Regions from separate parts of the Homo sapiens genome. Here region 1 is linked to region 2. Evidence: fine-mapped expression QTL. A gene starts in region 2. The other region holds a variant in brackets. All regions are shown on one strand. Distances are between the middles of the regions.

Region 1 (2,906 bases), 290 kb after region 2:
GAGACAAAAGTGGCCTTATCAAATGCATGCTTCAAAAAGTGTCCTCTGTCTCTCCAGCAGAGAACAAACTGGATGGTGGCACGACAGAGCCAAGGAGACGAGAGGGGGGGCTGTCCCCACAGGGCGGGACAGGGCACTAGAGTCCAGGCCAGGGCAGTGGCCAAGGAGACAGAAAGATGTGGATGATTCCAGAAAAATTTCAGCCAAAGAACTGACAGGACTTGATACTTCATTAAATTCCTGGAGTTGGGGCAAAGGAGAGTGCTTGACCCCTCTGGTTCCTGAGAGCATGGTTTTTTCCCCATGCTACCAAGTAATGCTTTTAAGGAAAAGTAGAGTTCACATATTTTAAGTGGATCATGGCTTGGTGACCTGAGTCTGTAAAGTATGTAATTCAGTGTAACTACCTGGACCCCTTGGGTTCTTGGTCCAGAAGTTGATCTGTGGCAGCCTAAAATAAACATGAGGACCTCGAAACAGTGGGATCAGCTCCAAAGAGCCAGAGCTGAGCACTGCCTGTGTCAAAAGGTGCGCACCTGGAGGGAAAGCGAGAGGTGGGAAATGGATGTAGCAGCAATGGCACTGGACAGGAGAGGCCTTAGAAGGAGCCGAGGGCAGCTTGCACTGGGCAGAGAAGTCCACGGCTGGCCCTGAAGGAGAAGCTGCTTTGTGTAGGGTGATGGCCACTCCAGGAACAGCTGAGGATGATTGCCAGGGCACTCAGGATGCTCCCTTTATCCAGAATGTCTTCCCATCATCATCTCTCTCTTTTGCCCGGTGATCTACAATTTACAAAGCAACGTCATAAAGAGCAGGAAGAGTTTTGTGTTGAGTGAGGTAGGTTGCTCGAGGGTCTTAAATAAGAAGTGCCATCATGTGCCACAAGTGGGGAGTCCATCTTCCATTCTGCTCTGAGCAGTGAGTGTCTTTCCCTGTCTTGTGGGGTCACAGAATAGGGACCAGAGGAGGTGGCCGGGCACTGAGCTTGCAGATGGTGGCCCAAGGAGTAAGCAAGCCCTTCAGGAGAGCCGGTGGACAGCAATGGAATGCTTGAAGGGGCTCTGTGCAGGGGCTGAAGCCAGTGGAGTTGGAAGAAGAGCCCAAAGTGTCAAGGGGAACAAGCAGTGGGACCCAGAGGCAGATCCAGCCTGGATCAGGGTCTGCTCACCCAGGCCTGCCTTAAAGTAGCAACAACTCCTTGGGGACAAAGAACTGGGGAGTAATCTCACAACATACTTTTTGGAAATTTTGCCTCTGACTTTGTGGGGTGAATCATTGAAGTTCATCACAGAGGGGGCTGCAGGCCATCCCAGGGGAGTCCTTTGTTGGCATCATAGAGGCCCACGCAGTGACCCCCAACCACCTTAAATATTCACAGACAGCTGAACTGGGCAGATCCCACCCACGACCTGAGTCAAGAATCTACACCTGGGCTGGGCGCAGTGGCTCACACCTGTAATCCCAGCACTTTGGGAGGCCGAGGCAGGCGGATCATGAGGTCGGGAGATCAAGACCACGGTGAAACCTCGTCTCTACTAAAAATACAAAAAATTAGTCAGGCGCGGTGGCAGGTGCCTGT[G/T]GTCCCAGCTACTCGGGAGGCTGAGGCAGGAGAATAGCGTGAACCCGGGAGGCGGAGCTTGCAGTGAGCCGAGATCAGGCCACTGCACTCCAGCCTGGGTGACAGAGCAAGACTCCGTCTCAAAAAAATAAAAATAAAAAAGAATCTACACCTGAAGTAGAAACTAACTACCCTTCTGCCATGAAGTTCTGCAGAGCCTCCTTTTATCTCAACAGGCTCCACATTTCAGGTTCCTGTCGGTCACTCCTGAGAGTCTCAACAGCCCCTGGAGGTCAGGATGGAGGGAGGGGCTACACATTCCAAGAAGGAGAGGCAGCGTTGGCCCACAGAGCGGCCTTGGTCTCAATGTTGGACTTGGAGGACTGGAGCTTGTGGACAGACCCATGTTGTCCGAGCTCTCATCCTGAATGCAGAAAGCCAGAATGCAGATTTGTTCATTTTCAACAGATGACTGCAGGACCAACGTTGTCACAGGGGCCAGCATTCTCTCACCAGGCAAAGCCAGCCGCTTCTCTGCCTGGTATCAAGCTGCCTGGGCAGCCAATTCGTAATCAGAGTGCCAATTTATAAGTGTAGAATGAGAAATAGAACTGCCACAGGAAGCAGAATCACTGCCTGGTCGGCCCTGTGGGACTTTCTGGAGACTTCTGTCAAATATGCTCGTGTAAGACTGGGAGCCATGAATAAATGCACATTTTTGTTTGTTTTTGTTTTTGTTTTGTTTTTTGAGACAGGGTCCTGCTCTGTCTGCTGGAGTGCTGTGATGCAATCTCCACCTCCCGGGTTCAAGCCATCCTTCTGCCTCAGCCTCCCCGAGTAGCTGGGGCTATAGGCACGCGCCACCATGCCCAGCTAATTTTTGTATTTTTAGTAGAGACAGGGTTTCACCATATTGGCCAGGTTGGTCTCAAACTCCTGACCTCAGGTGATCTGCCCACCTCGGCCTCCCAAAGTGCTGGGATTACAGTCATGAGCCCCCGCGCCTGGCCAATATGTGTACTTTTAAAAAGTGCTTTGATAGAGGATTCTGATGTAAAATAATGCGTCTAACGTAAATTTTTTAAGGTATCACGTCTTTTTTATTCTGTGCATTTATTTAGAAACTGTTTATGACAAAAGAGTGAGATTACATGTCTAATACAGTTTTTTGGAGAGAGCATCCCTGGCCAATAGGAAAGCTTCAACAACAGAATTTCTGGGGCCTCCCGGGCACATTTTCATCCTGTTCTGGCTTTGTCAGTGATACTCAACTGCAGTGTCAGTGCCCAGTGCAAAGAGACCTTCTTCCAAGGCAAAGGTAGATGTGTGCCTGCAGGTTGGAGACGAT
Region 2 (2,906 bases):
AGTGCAGTGGTGTTATCTGGGCTCACTACAACCTCAGCCTCCTGGGTTCAAGTGATTCTCCTGCCTCAGCCTCCCGAGTAGCTAGGACTACAGGAGTGCCACACCACACCTGGCTCATTTTTGTATTTTTAGTAGAGATGGGTTTTCGCCATGTTGGCCAGGCTGGTCTCAAACTCCTGACCTCAGGTGATCTGCCCCTCTCGGCTTCCCAAAGTGCTGGGATTACAGGCATGAACCACGATGCCTGGCCCAAATTTAGATTCAAAGTCATGTTGTGAATAGGAAATGTACCAGATAAGCTTTCAAAGTCTTGTTCCGCTAAAATTTAAGAAAGCACATAAGTACATCCTTCTAAATGAAAATAAAGACTTGGTTAATTTGTACATTTCTAGAATCCATGAGCGTATATAAATTCACATCTTAAAGCAATGTGAAAGACCATCAATATTTTATTTTTTCTACGCAAAAGCTGCCATATATTGTAAACAATAACAATGCTATGAATGGATTTCAGTGTCACCAACCTTATTGAACCATTCAGGGCTTTTCTTTTTAGCCAATGATAATGTTGTAATAAATCCAGCTAGCATTCCCGCTGCAGCAACGGTACCAAGGAAAATTCCACCTGCCAAGAGTTTCGGGGAGGAGGGGGGATATTAAAAAAAATTAAATAAAAAGAGGTTAAAAAGATGTACAAAAGTAAGTTTAAGATACTATTCGAGTTACAATCAAAATCACTTTTGAAATTCAAGAAACCATGGCTAAGCAGCTCTTGCTAACAGTAAATGACAGCGGCTGAGAAACACGCGTGACCGCACGACCTCTGGTTCCTTGGGTCATTCCGAATTATTATTCCCGAGCGCAGAGAAAAGGTTCAGCTTCCCTTCCCCTCTCCCCTGGGACCACAGCGTGAAGTTTCTCACGGGGAGGAGAAGAGACGATGGCAATCAGAAAAGGCAAGGCTCTAGAACAATTGCAGAGGTGACGGGGAAATATGGCACGCCCGGGAGAATAGCTCGCGGGATCTGCCCCCCGCCCCGCCCAAGGGGAGACTCCACCCAGTAAGCGACCTACCCTCCCTGGGCCGCCAGACTCCGCGGGCTAAACTCAGGGGCAAGCACAAGCTAAGGGCTCTCAGAGCGGGATGTGTGTGGGAATGCCCGCTCCAGAGCAAGCCAGGGTCCGGGGTTAACTCACCCCGACGCCCGCACCTCACCACAGCACATCTTACCTTTAACCAGGAAAAGCCGGTCATTCGTGGACCCCGGAGCCTCCAGCCCAGAGGCCGGCTGCCCAGTTGCAGCGCCCGCTGTCTCCATGTTTAGGTCGCCTCTAGTGCGTCCGTCCCCAACTGGGCCCGGGTGGAAGCGAGAACCAGGCGGAGGAGAAAGGTTCCGCTACCGCCTCCTCCTGTGCAATCTGAAGAAGGGTCCGGAGTGCGGCCGCTGTCCCCAAACCCTCCTCCCGCGCCGGGGCCGGGAAGACGTGCTGTGCCCAGCCCCAGGGGCGATGCCCTCCAAGGCCGTCTCTTAGGGAGGATCTTTTGATTTCTCCAAGGAGATCATTGCTGGACTTAAGTGATTACTTTGGCTGTTTGAAAGAACGCTCAGCCCCGACTGTAGGAGGCAGTGAGGGTCGCAGATTGCGCCAAGATTCCAGGCCCCGCCTGTGAGACCCTGGAGCTCATTTTCCTGATCAAGCTTACATTGTGTCCAACGATTTGGCCAGCGCTAACACTCCACGATTCTAAAACGCAAGCCTAGGTCTTCTGTCTGTACTTTTCTAGGTAACTTCCCAACAGTGTTGAGGAATAAGTGACAGGCTTTCTCCCTGGAGGAGAGCCAGCCACCCGGTTCTGCGGTGACGGGTACCTCCGCCGCGGTGTGAGTGCTCGGCCTCCGTCGGGAAGTGGAACACTCACAGGATGACCGAATGAAAGTACCACCCCCGAAAGGAGAGCGACGCCCGCTGGAAGCGCTTGCAGAGCTGCCGGCAACGTTGACCGCTAGCAAGCTTGGTCTTCCGCTGGGAGGCTGGTTTGCCCATTCTGTAAATGGCCGTGGAGAGGAGGAGGCTAGTGGTGATAGAAAATCTTTTCAGCCTCTCAGAGAACAATGACATCTTGTAAAATAAGGCGGTCTCTCTGCTATTTGTCCTGCCCCCCATCACCGGAGGGCATGAGTTTCCTGAGGATGGAGATGGGACTCTATGTTCAGTTTATATCCCCCAGCTTTCAGATATTAACTGGTTACCAACATCAAATGCATGTTGGATGAATGAGTAAATGAATGCATCCATTTTTGCGTCAGTGAAGTGCAGTTAATAGCTCAAACCTGGGCTCGGGTCCTAAACCGCTTCTCAGGTGTGTGAACTTGGGGTAACTTAGCCCCTCTATAGCTCAGTTTCCTCACCTGTAAAATTTAAAAACTGGTAGTAGGCCAGGCGCGGTGGTTCACGCCTGTAATCCCAGCACTTTGGGAGGCTGAGGCAGGTGGAGATCAGAAGTTCGAGATCAGCCTGGCCAACATGGTGAAACCCCGTTTCTACTAAAAATACAAAAATTAGCGGAGTCTAATGATGCGGGACTGTAATCCCAGCTACTCGGGAGGCTGAGGCAGGAGAATGGCTTGAACCTGGGAGGGAGAGGTTGCAGTGAGCCGAGATCGAGCCGTTGCACTCCAGCCTGGATGACAAGAGTGAAACTCTGCCATCCACCCCATCCCGCCCCCCCCACACACAAAAACTGATAGTACCTAACTCATAGGATTACTGTGAGAATTAAATGAAGCAACATCTATAAAGAAGTTAGCACAGTGCCTGGCACATATAAATATTCAATACATGTTAGCTCTAACTATTACCACCTTTGATTCCAGTAGCTATTTTGCAGCATTGCCTATGGGGAT

Direction of the effects. Positions count from the first base shown, and alleles are read on the strand shown. Sizes are in standard deviations (SD) of each study's normalised expression.
With allele G in place of T in region 1, the expression in B cells of the gene that starts at base 1,339 in region 2 is lower (small effect, 0.35 SD a copy in Fairfax 2012).

The links. PIP is the estimated chance that this variant, and not a neighbour inherited with it, causes the effect.
Region 1: its variant is the best candidate, but not a certain one, in a credible set for the expression of TMEM242 in B cells (Fairfax 2012, PIP 0.87).

What each region holds. Positions count from the first base shown.
Region 1 is chr6:157,608,732-157,611,637 of GRCh38, forward strand. All of the region lies in intron 3 of ZDHHC14 (zDHHC palmitoyltransferase 14), which reads left to right. Among named protein-coding and RNA genes, the nearest start is that of MIR3692, 81 kb to the left of the region's middle. The variant G/T (reference allele first, on the strand shown) is at 1,580.
Region 2 is chr6:157,322,181-157,325,086 of GRCh38, forward strand. It overlaps TMEM242 (transmembrane protein 242), which reads right to left and starts at 1,339. Exons shown (of 4, transcript NM_018452.6): 1 at 1,232-1,339; 2 at 525-625. The coding sequence starts at 1,319. It overlaps TMEM242-DT (TMEM242 divergent transcript), which reads left to right and starts at 1,454. Exons shown (of 1, transcript NR_187268.1): 1 at 1,454-2,297. RefSeq lists enhancers at 1,102-1,441, 1,622-2,051.